Linked DNA regions of Homo sapiens: region 2 is linked to region 1. Evidence: fine-mapped expression QTL. Tissue or cell type: whole blood. Region 1 holds a variant in brackets; the other region holds the start of a gene. All regions are shown on one strand. Distances are between the middles of the regions.

Region 1 (8,102 bases):
TGAAAAATGAAGAGGGAGTGGCTAGATGAAGACTGCAGGCTGGTTAAGGACTTTTGCCCTCTGGAGAAGGAGCTGAGAAGTGTTTTAAGCAGAAATTTGACTGCATGGGAGAAGTATAGAGTTGAGAAAAGTAGTCCTCTGAGGCTTAAGATAGTGTCATCTAGACTCCAGTTCCCTCATCTTGGGTAGCATAGTAGCCCCAGCCCAAAACTGCAAGCATGATCCCCGTCTGGGTTTCCTTCACAAGCACTGGAGCATCTTGTGCTATGTGCTGAACTCAGGTGGATAAGAGGTTGAGGCGGTTCCCAAAGCTCCTGCTGCACCCAGGTGTTGAGCCTAAATCTGAACCTTGTGGAGAGGTCACAAGAAAGATCCCTAACAGCACTTTGGTTTAGTCAGGGCTAGGTGTCATCACCTGTATGCCCTTTGGCCAAGGAAACCAGAATTTTTCAGGATTTTCCCCACCTCTGGAAGGCTGGAGGAAGGGGAAGACCCACTCAGCAGATTCCCATAGTGCAGGGATCCTCACAGGCATGACTTTGCCCTTTGTCATGGATACTGCAGCTCCCAGACAGTCTTCTGGGCTTTGATCAGCCTGCAATCATCTGACTAGAGCTTGATTTTTGGGGCAGGGAAGGTGGTCCTTATATGAGCTGCCACTTAATGGGCCACTGGGGATTTTTCAACATGAAAGGTACCGAGTCTCCAAATGCTGGTTGTAGGGCCTAAAAACAGGGCTCAACTCCAGGTTCTGCCACTTTCTAGCTGAGTGATGAGGGCTAACGTCTGGGGAGCAAGATCCCTATTTTTTCCCATTGTAAAATTGGGCTAATAAAAGATGCTACCTACTGACTATTAAATAATATATGTAAAGTGGCTAGTTCTGTGTCGGCACATAATAACCACTCAGTCCCTGTAAACTGTTACAATTATTTTCCACTTGGGGCTGCTTTTTGCACAAGGCGATGATTCTGAGAATTGTCCAGTGTCTTTGGTGTGAGGAAGGGAGTCGCTGGATGGTCTGAACCAGAATTTCCTCAGGAGGGGGCTCCTGAAGCGCCCAAAGCCTAATCAAATCCCCCACCTTTCTACCCCTTAACTCCTTCTCCCAGAGTTCTGGGTACTGCCCTTCTGCCGCCCAGAGATCGTGCTGAGGTACAGACGGTTTCTACGTCTTCCTGGTCAGCCGATAGACTAGCATATTCCATAGGAGCACTCCAAGGAAGCCGGAAAGGGCGCCTCCAGGAGGCAGGCGGCCCAGACAGGCTCCCAGAGTCCGAAATCCCTGCTGCCCCAGCTGCCTTTTCTTGACGGAGTCTCATCTCAATCCCTGAGACCGACTACACCGCCCTTCCCGGAGCCGGAGGCAGCTGGCGGAGATCCGGGATCCGAGATCCGGGATCCGGCTCGCCGGCCCGCCGGCTCCCTAGCAGCACCAAGGAGGCAGCGTCCGCAGGAGGTGGAGGCGTTGGCGGGGGGGCGTGCGGGTGCGGTAGGGGTGGGCAGGCGGGGTGGGCGGGGCCTCCGCGGCGGCGGGCGGGGCGTGGGTGGGTCTTCCCTACTGGAGTCACCCCCTCCCCCGGCCGGTCCGCAGCCCCGCCCCGGCCCCTCCCTCCGGCCTGTGCGGCTAGTCCGGCGGCGGCGCCGGCGCGGGGACAGGCGGAGGCGCGGGCAGGGCCGGGCGGACGGGCGCTGGCAGCAGTAGCAGCGCCGCGGGCCCTTCAGAGTGGCCGCAGTCCGAGCTTTGCCCTCGCATCCTGTTCCAACGCGGTGAGTGCGACGGGCGGGCCCCAAGGGTGCGTTTGTATTCCTGTCAGCCCGGGTCTGGGTCGGAGCGTCTGTGGGTGGGGGCACAGATGATTTTCAAAAGCTGTGCCTCTCTCTGCCCACGTGAGGCGTGTCCATGTCCGTGAGAGCAGCAGGGGGATTCTTCGGGCTGTGGCTGCTCACGTGAGGTCCCTGTTTTGAGGCGGGGAGGCGCGGGTGGATGGGTGATGGTTCCTTAGGGGAGCGCGGGGTTTGGGAGCTTGTGTGTGTTGGCGGAGGGTGCTGAACGCTGCGGCCGAGGGTGGTGGTGGTGGTGCGTGCTGAGTGGGACTCTGGAATATTGTGGCCCATCTTGTCTGAAGGGCTCTTTTCTCCCTGGTGCAGACACCTCCACCCCTTGCTCCCCCACCCCCACCCTACCCCACCCCCCGCCCCTTCCATCCTCTGGTACCCACAGGCCCACCAGTCAGGATGGAGGACACCCTTTCCTCCCCATGCACTGCTCTGTGGACAGAAAGCCTCATGTGGAGGCTGTTTTTTTGTAGGAAAGGACCCCTCTGGTTCTCCTGTAGCCTGAGCCCTGCCTGGAGGACCCCAGGCCCCTCCCTGGTTCTGACCTCCTCCCTTCTGCAATTGGCTTCAGATCCTGGGCTGCAAACCTGCAGGGACAGATGGTTGCAGGTTGGAGGGGCAGGCTGCACCCCAGGGAGGTCAGTTCGACTGAGGGCAGGCCCTGGGCTTGTTCTTGGTGTGGGGGTTCTCTGATGTGGACAACAGAAACTCAGGACTGGCCCTAGCAGGAAGATCACATCTGGGAGGTCACAGCAGGTGCAGAAAACATCACAGGTCTCCCTTGGCCAGTCTGTCTAGCTCACTGGTGCCCATTCATCCCCTAAGCAGGGGATGATTTGCTGCAGAATTGGAATCAGAGCTGCAGGCCTGACAGTAGCCCTGCCTCCTTGGGCTTGTATGCCTCCAGTGACAGAGCACTTGCTACTTTCTGCTGTGGAAAAGCTTCCTTATATTAAGCAGAGGTCTCTCTTCTTGGGACTTTATTCACTTGTCTTGTTACTGCCATTACTTTTGCATCTCTCTCTGATGAAAGGGAACTGCAGAGATTTAAACAGAGCTCTCCTGTAACCAACATATACTGAGTACTTCCTGTGTGCCAGGTACTGCCACAGCCACTTAGGAGACAATGGCATTCTTGCCGAGAGAACTTGAGCAAAGAGTCCATCGTTGGGATAGTATAGCCCAGGTTCAGAAAAGCAGAAAAACCATATGGTTAGAATAGAGAGCGTTCATAGAGTGTCACAGGTGACTTAAAACTCAGCAAACATTTATTTACGGGGGCGAGGGGGCAGGGGGAGTGTGGAGGGGAGGCAACTAAGACCATCCTCTAACACATTTAGCCTAACAGTGGAAACTAGAAGTCAAATCATCGAGGTAGTACAAGATGGGATTTAATCATGGGCTCATGGTACAATCTGTGGAAGCCCTTGGCTTGAGAGGGAACCTTGGGAATCTCAGATTTTGAGAAAACATCCCTCTTCTCCCAATTTACAAATAAGGGAATGGGGTTGGAACTTACCTAGAGTTTCACCTTGTGTTAGTGGAGTTAGTTACAGCATTAGGACTAGATCCTAGATCTCCTAACTTTTTAAACCTAGCCAAATTTCAGAGGCAGAATTGAGGATGTAGTCATAGCTTGTATCTGAAAGGTGAAAGAAAAGGTGTAATTGAGAAGACTACCAGGGTTCTCGCTTGTGTGGGTGGGTGAGTGGTGGTGCCTTTTATTTATTTATTTATTTAGATTTATTTATTTTTAGCATATTTATTTTTATGCTTTTAGGATGTAAAAGCATCATGTATAACCTCTGCCTTTTGGAGATTTGCAATCTTGTCCATCTGTTCCATATTTCTTAGTTTCTCATGTTTCTGTTTCTTTACTCACTGTTTTCCCAATGTACGTATCAATGTCCTATTTGTCTCTCAAGACCCAGCTCAAATACCCCTTCCTCTGGAAGCCTTCTTTATTCTGTACCATCCTCAGAGTTAGGTACTTCCTCCAGTTTGCTGCTGTAGCAATTTGAACATGTCAATATCATGGTACTTATCACATTGTAGTTACGTGTTTCCATTTCTGTTTCTCACATTAGTCTAAAAACTTGTGAAAGACAGGGAGTGTGTCTGATTCAGCTTTGTGTCTCTATTTCACAGCTGAAGGACCTGGCCCACAGTGTGCCCAGAGAAGTTTGATTGAATGGTTCATTCACTTTACTCAGTCTGGCAATGTTGGGGGAGATGGCCATGAATTTCATTGCTTTCCTTCCCTGCTAATCTTATTTAAAGGATTCATTGGCTTTAAGGACTTTGCCTCATCCAAGGCTTCATTTGTTTCAGAGAAAGCCCAAAGACTGTAACCTGCAGTCATTTGTCATTTTTTTGAGGTCTCAAATGATCAGATAAACCTGGAAGCTAGTGAGTAGACGTGAGTTATTTTAGCAAGCAAATGAGCCTAGCTGACCTCTCGCATCCATTTTCAACAATGCCTTGGTTACCTCCATTCACAACTGTGTAACTCATGTGTACTGGGAATCCTGTGAGATTGTAGGAGGAAGTCCTGGGGAAAATTAATGCTATTTGAGAATTTGGAGAAACTGAAAAGCCTTGAAACACATCCTTTGCAGATGTCCAGGATCTAGTGGAGTCAGCACTGGCTGTCTTCATTTGTTCACAATCAGCTTCTTGCTTGACTCCCTGCATCTGGCTTCCTGTCCTCCATCCCCTGAAAACCACATGCTCTGAGGTTAATGAAAGCCTCTTTGGGGCTTAAATAATGGGACCTCTGCAGCATTTCACTCCCTTGTTCATGAAGTTCTCTTCTCCCTTGGCATTCATGACATCTGTTTCCTGATTCTCTTGCTTCTCTGGTTGTGCCTTCTCA[A/G]TCTTCTTTGCAGACTCTGCTTCCTGGGCCTATCTCTTAAATATTGAGGTTCCTTGGGACTTGGTGATAGACCCTCCTTTCTCTCTTTACCCTCTCAGGGTAATGTCATCCACGCCCATGGCTTCAGGAACCATCTCTGCACCAACATCCACATTCATGTCTCCAGGCCAGACCTCTCTCTTAGGCTTCAGCGTATCTTTCCAACTGCCAACTGGACCTCTCCACTTGAATTACATCCCATAGGCACCTCAGATTCATCACATTAAACAGTGAACTCTAGCTGGGTGCTGTGGCTCATGCCTGCAACCCCCACGCTTTGGCAGGCCAAGGCAGGAGGATTAGTTGAGCCCAGGAGTTTGAGGCTACAGTGAGCTATGATCATAACACCACATTCCAGCCTGGACAACAGAGTAAGACCCTGTCTCTTAAAAAACAAAAACAAAACTGAAAAAACCTTAAAAGATAAACACCAAACTTATCACCCTCTCATCCAAACTGCTCTTCTTTGAGAGTTTCCAAAGAATCATCTGTTAATTCCTTCTTCTCCCCTAACTCTTCACATGTAAATACCCAGCCACCAAGTTCAGTTGATATCCCCCTGCAAAATTGATTTATCTTGGCCTGTCTTTGCTATTCTCCTAATCAAGGCAGTTTCTTAATTTTCCGTCCTTGCCCTTTAAACTATTTTCCACATAGCAGCCAAAAATGTACTTTTGTCACTCTATACTTAATAGCCCTCACCACTACCAAAGTTTTCCTTTGCTTTTTGGATAAATCCTTCATCCCCTAGCAGGTAAGCGTAAAGTCTAAACTCCTTAATAAGACCAACAAGGCATTGCATGATATATCTTTTGCCTACCTCTCCATCTTGTTTCTTAGCCCTCCCATCACAGTGTCTGATTCAGCCTCCTGATGCAAAAGGCACCATACTCTCTGTAACTCATCCTCAGCTTGAACGTTACTTTCTTTAGGAGTTACTAAAGTTACTTTCTTTAGGAGAAAGGTTGGCCTCCAACCTCTGGACCCACCCCTGCTCCAGATCTAGGTTAGGTAACCTTTGTACTCCTGGAGCAATTGGTGCTTCCTCATCATGGTCTTCACCACTTTACATTGCAGTAATCTATTTATTAGATTGTGGAATCCATGAAGGCTGAGCTGTGACTATTTGTCTTTGTGTCCCCAGGCCTAGCAGCAGTGTCAAGTGAATGCTGAATGAGGGAGTGAGGTGCCTTGAGAACTAAGCCATAAAGTATGGTGGGAATAACCAATACAGGGATAGCAGAAGGCAGTATGAGAAAGGAGAGTAAAGTCTGGCTCTGAGACCAAGGCCTTATAAGTGTCTGCTGTGATAAACAGTTCACTTGAACCACCACCTATAGGATCTTGGGGGCAAATCTCTAGAGCACAGTGGGATGGAAGAGCTAGGACCCCACGGGAGGAAGAGAATCTCAGATTCAGGCAGGGGTATGGCCTCAGCGGCTGCATGCCCAGTAAGTCTGGGAGGGGAACTGAAGCAGGAAGGGGAGGAGTGGGGGAGGAGCTATTGGTCCTTGGACATAGCCCAATCCCCGCCCCTGTGTGACAGTCTGGGAGAGCCCCTAGGCTTGGAGAGAGGTGGAGCCTGGCATCCAGCTACCCCAGCAGGACCCAGCAGACCACTCCCACTCTTCCTCCCAGCCTTTCCCTTCACCAGACAGAGGCTTCAGCTTGCCTCCCGCCTCCTGGTCCTTCCGCCAACCTTCAATCTGTCCTCCCTCCTGCTATGTTTTCCTGGTATTAAGTCTTCAGACTCCAGAACCCATTACAACTGTAGAGAGAACATCAGGATGCCAGTGTCTACATCAGCAGAGGATACTTTCAGGCATGCCCTTCACACTCTACCCAGGCCCACCCTTACACAAACATAAGGCACAGCAACTCAGCCCTTCTATCCCTCCCCAAATCTAGACTCGCTCCTGCATTCATTCATTCATTCATTCATTCATTCATTCACAGTCTTTAGAAAAAGGCTCATAATGCATCCAACAGCACAGACAATGGTGACCTGGTCCTATTCATTGCCTATTTTGGAGTAATCCAGCTGTTGTTCTGCCACCCTTCATGACCAAATCCCTGCCATGTATTGTCTACATCTGCTGTGTTAACTTCATCTCCCATTTACTCTTCAGTCACTCTGACGTGGCTTCTGCCCCTGCCACCCCACCACAGCCAAATCTAGTGGGCACTCTTCAGTCCGTTTCTTACTTCACCCCTTCTTTTTCTTGCACTGTTCTGTTGATTTCTTTGGTTTCACATTCTTTTGGTTTTCCTACCATTTCTCTGGGTTCTCTTTCTCAGAGTCACCTTTGCTGGCTCCCCTCTCTTGTGCCAGGCCCTTTTCTTATCACTGTCTGCCCTCTGTCCCTAGGTGGGCTCATGTCTTCTCATTGCTGAAAGTGCCATTTATATGCTAGTGATCCCAAATCAATAACCAGTCCAGACTTTTCTCTTGAGCTCCTGTATTCTGTTTCTTACTTGACAGCTCTACCTGGACATCAGAGAGACACATTGTACTTAGCATACATAGAACAGAATGCCCCAAATCAGCTCCACCTCAGCTTTCACTGTCTCTATTCATGGCCCATCACTTGCTAAAATGAGAAAGCTAAGTCATAATTGACATCCCTCTCACACCCAGTTCATCTTGATGTCCTTTGGATTTCTCTTTTATTATTTATTTTATTTTTATAGAGATGGGGTCTCATTATGTTGCCCAGACTGATCTCGAACTCCTGAGCTCAAGTGAACCTCCTTCCTCAGCCTCTCGAAGTGCTGGGATTACAGATGTGAGCCACCTTGCTCGGCCAATGAATATTTCTCAAATCAGTCCAGCTTTTTGCTTGTAGCTCAGATGATACCCTACATTATCTTACCCAAAGAACTTTGGTAGCTTCCTAACTGTTTTCTCTGATTCCACTCTGGCTTCTCTTTGTCTTCAATTCTCACAGCTTGCCAGAGTAGCTTTCTAATTTATTTTCACTTATTTATAAACCACATCATCCCCCCCTCCAACTTAGGATAAAATCACTTTTTTTTTTTGAGACAGAATCTCAACTTTGTCTCATGCCAGGCTAGAGTGCAGTGGCACGATTATGGCTCACTGCAGCCTCGACCTCCTGGGCTCAAGCAATCCTCCCACCTCAGCCTCCCAAGTAGCCTGGACTACAGGTGTGTGCCACCATGCCTAGATGATTTTTAATTTTTTTGTAGATATTGGTCTCATTATGTTGCCCAGGCTGATCTCCAATTCCTGGGCTCAAACGATCTTCCTGCTTTGGCCTCTGAAAGTGCTAGTATTACAGGTATGAGCCACTGCACCCAGCCAAAATCACATTCTTAATGGCGGTTA
Region 2 (8,102 bases), 26 kb before region 1:
TTAGATCAACACAAGTTTCCCCAGGGATAACAGTGCAATCCTATTCTAGAATTCATATCAACAATATGGTTTATAACCTTTATACATATGTCCTTGATGAACTGTTGTGTTGGATCAGGACATCTTAAATGGTATAATTGCTCTTATAGGTTCATTTTCTCAGCAAAGTCCTATATTATATAGTATATTCAGAAGATCGCAAAACCAAGGACATTTGCTCCTCTACGGGTTCCTGGTGTCCAATCAGCTGTGGGCTCATTCTGCCTGATGTCTTCACACAAGTCCTCAGACAGCTACCTCTTTCAGGCCTCTCAAACTGCTATCCCTAACCCCATGCAAGCCCTGCTGAGCTCCCAGTTCCATCCCATTCTCTGTCTCCTTCTCTGCCTGGAGAAAGCTGAAGTTTTCAGCCATTAGCCAATTCCCTCAACTTCAGTTGCCTTCCCCCACACACTTATCTGTCCCCCGATTTCAGAGGAAGAGGTATCCTTTCTTCTCTGTAAGATTAATTCCTCCATCAGTGCTCTGGACCCCTTATTCTCTATGATATATTTTTAATCTACTCTTCTTCTTACCTTAGTCTATTTATTCATTTAGTCTACGAATATTTATTGAGCACCTACTTCTCAAGCACTGTGTTAAGGGATATAAACATCTCTCTATCAAAAAAAAAAAAAAAATCCCTACCCAGACACCAAAATTCTTTCAAGCTGCTGCCCTGCTATTTGTCTTTTCCCTTCAAGCTAAGCTTCACAAAAAAAATCGTAAAATGCGATTTCCACTTCATCTTCCATTCACTCCTCAATGCACCACAATCTAGCTTCCTCCCCACAAAACTTAACCTCTTCCTTGTTACTACATCCAATGAACATTTTCATTCTTCTTACTTGTCTCATTTAACATGTAATACTACTGACTGCTCCCTCCTCCTTGAAACTCTGTTTGATGTTTTTGTTAATCTAATCTAGACTTGAACACTCCCCCCACATGCTTTCCCCCTAACTACACTCCCTCTCTCTCTCTCTCCCACCTGCAGAGAAGCAGCCAGGCAAAAGACAGTATTCTTTTGTTTTATAGCACTTATTACAATTTGTAATTATATTTTACTTGTTATCAACTTAACTATATCTCCCTAACTAAACTGTAATACCTCAAGTGAAGGGATTGAGTCTGTCTCATTCACTTCTGTATCCCTAGCATCTTGCAGATCCTAATAAATGTAGCTATCCAACACTTATTGAATGAATGAATGCCTGGCAAACCACTCCGGGAGAACGTAATGCAAATTAAGCCATATTAGCTAGACCTCAGAGGTTTACTGCCAGGTTCAAAGGGAGGGCAAAGAACTTGATCCCTTCCCAACATCTCAGCCCATGCCAATTCAGTCAAGTTCTCCCAGGAAAGGAAACTTGTACTCAAGGCACAGGGCAGCTCTTTGAAAAAGGAAAAGATTCCAATAGGGCCACCATAAATTTATGGCATTGGCCACCTCCCATTAGGGCCCCAGGAGCCTGCCTATCTATCTAACATTAGGCTTTAATGGAAAGACTTGACCCAGCCATAAACTTACAGCAAAAACTGAGGAAGCCAACCTTAATTAAAGGTAAAACTAGCCTTCTTCCCGAACAGTAAATGTGCCACAGACAGCTGCAAAGCATTGTCTAGAAAATGAGGCCAGAGGACAAGGAGAATTCCAAAACTAAAGTTAAAAAACTCTCTTGGGCACGGTGGCTTATGCCTGTAATCCCAGCATTTTGGGAGGCCGAGGTGAGCAGATCACTTGAGACCAGGAGTTGGAAACCTAGCCTGGTCAACATGGCGAAACACTGTCTCTACTGAAAATACAAAAATCAGCTGAGCGTGGTGGCATGAGCCTGTAATCCCAGCTACTCGGGAGGCTGAGGCAAAAGAATCGCTTGAACCTGTGAGGCAGAGGTTGCAGTGAGCCAAGGTCAGGCCACTGCACTCTAGCCTGGGCGACAGAGTGAGACTCTGTTTCAGAAAAAAAAAAAAAAATCGAAAGTTAGAGAACGCTGAGAAGAGAAGGTCTCTGTAAGCATTCTGAAATCCTGTAGAGAGCTCTGATAGCCAGATATTTTAAAAAAGAAAACAATAGGGCCGGGCGCAGTGACTCACGCCTGTAATCCCAGCACTTTGGGAGGCAGAGGTGGGCGGATCATGAGGTCAGGAATTCGAGACCAGCCTGGCCAACATAGTGAAACTCCGTCTCTACTAAAAATATAAAAATTAGCTGAGTATGGTGGCACGTGCCTGTAGTCCCAGCTACTCAGGAGGCTGAGGCAGGAGAATCACTTGAACCCGGGAGGCGGAGGTTGCGGTGAACCGAGACCATGCCGTTGCACTCCAGCCTGGGCGACAGAGTGAGACTCTATCTCAAAAAAGGAAAGAAAGAAAGAAAGAAACAAAAGAAAAATATATCACTCAAGGGGCCAGAGTGCCCACACTGGCAGGGCAAGAAGAAGACTCTGGAAGGGTCAAAATGAAATTCTATCCAGTAGTGCTGCCAACTCCACTCTGCCTTGGAGCCGGTTTAAGTCACATAGACATGTGGGAAGGACACTCGGACACACATTCCCCAGGGGTACCTTGAGGGAAAGACCCAACATCCAGGAATCAACTCACAGTAGGCCCAGGCAATGTTCAGTGATTATGAATGAATTATAGAAAAATAATTAAGGAGACTTCTGACATCATCTAAGAAAAAAACCTGGAAACTGAAAAGTCAAGCTGTTATTCTAAAGCTTTGGCTGCCTCATAGCTGACTTCTGATTTTCATTAATTTCTGTATTTCTCTATGGGGATTAAGACTAACACCACTGGGTTTATTTTGCAGAGAAAAAGGAAGAGGAAAGTAGCCTCACACTAGCTTTGTGTGGAGTTGGGCTAATCCCTGTGATAAACAGAGAGCTGGATCTAAACTTCCAAGTGACCCCAGAGGCACCCATAAAACAGCAACTTTTTCTCCTCTGCTCAAGCCCTAGACTGAGTCCCTCACTTACCTGGTCTCTTTTCTTCCAACAGGCTCCACCTCTGCATTGTCAGTGTCACTGCTTTCATACCGTACAGGGATGTCCGCTGCCAGTGCCAAGGGAAGGAGACTAAGTCCATCCAGCCACACAGCCTCTTCTAGGGCCACCTGAGCACCAACAATGCCCAGGCAGCGCTGTAGCTCAGGCAGTGTCAATGGTCGCAGCCAGGTGGCCAGCTCCTCCTTTACTTGCTGCCTGCTCCACTGGGCCTGCACAAAAGGGCAAGCTGGGCATGGGGGCCTGTGATGGAGCCTCCGCTTCTGGGGACAGCAGTCAGCATGGGAAGCACTGTCTAACAAAGAGCTGTCTGGAGGAAAGGCCTGGACAATGGCACCTAGCAGGTCCAGATGGAGGTGGGTTTGGACCCAGGGTGCCCAGCAGTACAGCTGCTCCAGGAAGGGCAGCAAATCAAGGTGGCCAACTAGCAACTCACGATATGGAGGCAGTAGACCCAGTACTGCATGAAGATAGCGCCAAGCTGCAGGGCTACTGTCCTGCAACACAGCTGAGAACAGAGTTCGGAGCTCAGCTAGCAGGAGTTCCAGCACTGTGGGCTGCTCTGACTCAGTCACTGGCTTCACGAACTGCCTCTGTTTCTGCTGGCAGGCCAAGGGCTGTTCTTTGCTGTCCAAGACACATATGGAGTGCCAAGACTTAAGGGAATCAGATGATGTCTCATCAGAAGACAAACCTACCCTCCTCTCCTCCGGGACCATGAGGAGCTGGGCATTCAACTGCTGTCGAAGTGACCTTGCCCATAGCTCAGGCTCCAACTGCCAGTTCCAGGATGCCAGATGCGGGGCCTCACCTGCATGGGCCAGCCCAGCAGAGGGGCCAGAGAAGGGACCTCAGGCTCTGGGCAGGGGATGGTCAGAGTCAATGGGGTTAGGAGGAAGAAAGGACCTGGGACAGGGAAATAGATGGAGCTACAGAGCAGAGCCAGACCAGCAGAGAGCCTTTCCTGAGACCCTCAGGCCCTCCCTACTGCTTCCCCAAAGACTCTGGTAAGGAGCAGGCCTAAGACAGACGTGAGAGCCCTCCTTGCAGAAGAGTTCCTTCTTACCTCCCAGTACCCTGTCCCCCTCACCTGGCCTAGGGGGGTTAGGAGGCAAGGCAAGGGAAGAGAGCCCGATCTGCTGATGAGGTTTCATTGAAGAGTGCCTGCTGGAGCAGTGAATGAACTTAGACTTGAGTTCCAGTCTGAGGCTCACCCTAATCATAGCCACCCATACACGGAGAGACTCGCACACAGACGTGCAATCACCTGAAGAGGCAAACTGACACACCGACAGAGCTCACTCTGAACCTCGGTCACAGCAAGGAATCTGCACTCGAGCTGGCGATCGCCTGAAAAACGGGTTAACAGGTCGTCACTCGAAGGCAGCAGAGCCCCAGTCCCATGACGTCTTCGCCCACAGCCTAAGGAGGTCGTGAAGACAGAAAGCCGAGGAGCAGGCACAGCAAATGATGGTCAGGATGCAGGTAGGGGAAGACGTTAACAGGCAAAGGAGGGGGCTGGGAGAGCGGGGAAGAGGAGGCGGACTCTGTGGGAGGGGGTCCTAGGGAACAAAGAGAAATGGATCCGGAGCCGAGGACTCACCCGCAGCTCCACCCGCACCCAGCTGTTAGAACCGTTACAAGATTCCAGAAGGACCGAGTCTTTGCCAGGAGCATCCGGGGGAGCCAGAAAGAGGAGGGGCCAGGGTCCGATATGGGCGGGGCCGAGAGGGCAGAGCCCAAGCCTGGAGGGGCAGAACTAGGTTCAACCTGTGGGCTAAGGCTTGCCTGGGACAGGGACCTGTAGAGGACCAGGCGGGGTCTGAACTGCACGTGCAGTACGGTTGACTCGGGAGACTAGCAATCCAGAGGGTGTCGTAAGCAGGTGTTTATATCCATTCGCTGAGTATCTAAACTAGTGCCAGGTCTTTGGTATGTCTTTGGTACTCCCCCATCCCCACCCCCAACGTATCCATCTACCCTATCCCACCTCCCCAAAAGAAGCCCGAATAAAACAAAATCCTTGATCTCAAGGAGCTCAACATCTATTTGGCACGGGGGGAGGGGGATTTTTTGGGGAAGGGCTTATGGAGGGGCTAATTTTTAAAAATTAAGTTGAATGAGGCCGGGCGCGGTGGCTCATGCCTGTAATCCCAGCATTTTGAGAGGCCGAGGCGGGTGGATCACGAGGTCAGGAGATCGAGACCATCCTGGCTAACACGGTGAAACCCTGTCTCTACTAAAAATACAAAAAAATTAGCCGAGCGTGGCGGTGGGCGCCTGTAGTCCCAGCTACTGGGGAGGCTGAGGCAGGAGAATGGCGTGAACCCAGGAGGCGGAGCTTGCAGTGAGCAGAGATCGCGCCACTGCACTCCAGCCTGGGCGACAGAGGGAGACTCTATCTCAAAAAAAAAAAAAAAAAAAAAAAAGTTGATGATTAAAATAAAAAAAGAAATTCAGCCCACCTCTCCTCTGAAATCAGATTAGTATATCCAACTGCCTACTTAATGTCTCCACCTGGAGAGCTTATAGGTATCTCAAACTTAAAATGTCCAAAAGCAGGCTCCTAACCACCCTTTCCCCACCAAAGAAATGCTGCTCCTTTCACTGTCTTTCCCACCTCAGTCAATGGCAAATCCATTCTTTCTGGTTTCTCACACCAAAACCTTGGAGTCAGCTTTGAGACCTCTTCCAAACCCCTTCTTTCTCTTTCCCTCTTCTTTTTCCCTTTCTCTTTCTCTCTCTCCCCCTCCCTCCATAAGTAATCCTTCAGGAAATTCTGCTGGTTGTGCCTTCAGAATATATCCAGAATCCAACTATTTCCCACCATCTTAAGTACTACAACCTTGGTCTAAGCTGCTATCATTTCTCACCTGGGTTTTTCCACAGCCTTTGAACTGTTCTCCTTGCCTCAGATCCTTCTCATGCTTCTCACCATTGCCCCTACAATCCATTCTTTTTAGAGCAGCCAGTGATCCTTTTCAAATATAGGCAGATCCTATAACTCCTCTGCTCATAGCTCACTAATGCCCCCTCATCTAATTCCTTCAGCTGAAGGCCAAAGTCCTATCATGGCCTACAAATTGCTGATAACTGCCTGCTACCTCTGTAGGCTTCTCTCTTCACATTCACACTCTACTACTGCTGTGCCTGAATCACACCAGCCATACCCCCACCTCACAGACTACATACAAGCTGTGCTGTCTGCTTGTGTATCAGTTAGGAGATACACAAGTTATGACTGTTATTTATTTATTTTTTTGTAGAGACAGGGTCTCACTATGTTGCCCAGGCTGGTCTCGAGCCTCTGGCCTCTAGCAATCCTCCCACCTCACCCCTAAAGTGCTGGGATTACAGGCGCGAGCTATTATGCCCGGCTGTGATGGTTAATTTTATTTGTCAATTTGACGGAGCTAAGGGATGCTCAGATAGCTGGTAAAGCATTATTTCTGGGTGTGTCTTTGAGGGTATTCCTGGAAGAGATTAGTATTTGAATAGGTAGACTAAGTAAAGATCATCCTCACCAATGTGGATGGGCATTGTACAATCTGTTGCCTAAACAGAATTTAAACAGGCAGCTGGTGGACTTGCTGTTTTAGCTGAGACATTCATCTTCTGTCCATGGACATCAGTGCTCCTGGTTCTCAGGCCTTCAAACTTGGATTGAATTCCACCACCAGATTTCCTGGTTCTCTAGTTTGTAGACAGCAGATTGTGGGACTTCTCAGCCTATCAGTTCTGTTTCTCTGGAGAACCCCCACTAACGCGCAAGTTTTCTGGAGCTGCATAACAAGTTATTACAAACTAAGCAGCTTAAAAACAACACCTATGTAGTACCTCACAGTTCTGTAGATCAGATGTCCAGCATGACTTTACTGGATTCTTTGCTCAGGGTATCATAAGCCTGAAGTCAACATGTTGACGGGGCTACTCATCTGGTGGCTCTAGGGGGTGGGGGGTGTGGGGGGATCCACTTCCAAGCTATTATTGTTGTTGGCAAGATTCAGTTTCTTGCAGTTCTAAGACTGATGTCCCTGTTTTCTTCATGGCCATTAGCCAGGAGCCACTCTCAGGTCCTAGAGGCCACCTGTCTTCCTTGACATGTGGTTCCTCCATTTTCAAGCCAACAACAGTGCCTCTAACCCTTCTCATGCTTCACACTTTTCTGATGTCCCCTTCTGCAACCATAAAGAAAACACTCTGCTTTTAAAGGGCTCATGTGACTCATGTGACTAGATCAGGCCCACCCAGACAATCGCTCTTACAGTCAACTATGCCATATATTATAACCTTCTCACATAAGTAAAATTTGTCACATTCACAGTCCCATGGAATATGCAGCGTATACTAGGGAGATATATACTAGAGAGCAGGAAATCTCAGAGACAGTGGTCCCCAACCTTTTTGGCACCATGGACCAGTGTAGTGGAAGACAATTTTTCCACGGACCAGGGGAGGGGTTAACGGTTTCAGGATGATTCAAATGCATTACATTTATTGTGAGCTTTACTTATTTTACTATCACATTGTAATATATAATAATTATACAACTCACCATAATGTAGAATCAGTGGGAGCCCTGAGCTTGTTTTCCTGCAACTAGACAATCCGATCTGGGGGTGATGGGAGACAGTGACAGATCATCAGACATTAGATTCTCATAAGGAGCATGCCACCTAGCATGTGCTATTCACAATAGGGTTCATGCTCCTATGAGAATCTAATGCCACCAATGATCTGACAAGAGGCAGAGCTCAGGTAGTAATGTGAGCGATGGAGAGTGGCTGTAAATACAGATGAAGCTTCACCTGCTCACCCACCACTCACCTCCTGCTGTGTAGCCTGGTTCCTAACAGGCCATGACTGGTACCAGTCTGTGGCCCGGGGGTTGGGGACCCCTGATCTAAAACTTCTACCTACCACACAAATGCTGTAATAAAAAGACCCAAAATATCATGGCTTAAACATGATAGTTTATTTTTTTCTCTCACATAACCATCCAAATATAAGTACTCTGAGGCTACCACGGTAGCCTTCAGTTGTTCTGCCTTCTCC

What was found. PIP is the estimated chance that this variant, and not a neighbour inherited with it, causes the effect.
Region 2: it holds the start of DNHD1, and the variant in region 1 is fine-mapped to the expression of DNHD1 in whole blood (TOPMed, PIP above 0.99).

What each region holds. Positions count from the first base shown.
Region 1 is chr11:6,467,459-6,475,560 of GRCh38, reverse strand. It overlaps TRIM3 (tripartite motif containing 3), which reads left to right and starts at 1,620. Exons shown (of 12, transcript NM_033278.4): 1 at 1,620-1,770. RefSeq lists a silencer at 1,494-1,723 and enhancers at 1,081-2,019, 2,020-2,959, 6,148-6,442. The variant A/G (reference allele first, on the strand shown) is at 4,715.
Region 2 is chr11:6,493,880-6,501,981 of GRCh38, reverse strand. It overlaps DNHD1 (dynein heavy chain domain 1), which reads right to left and starts at 4,702. Exons shown (of 43, transcript NM_144666.3): 1 at 4,651-4,702; 2 at 4,315-4,397; 3 at 3,021-4,211. The coding sequence starts at 3,766.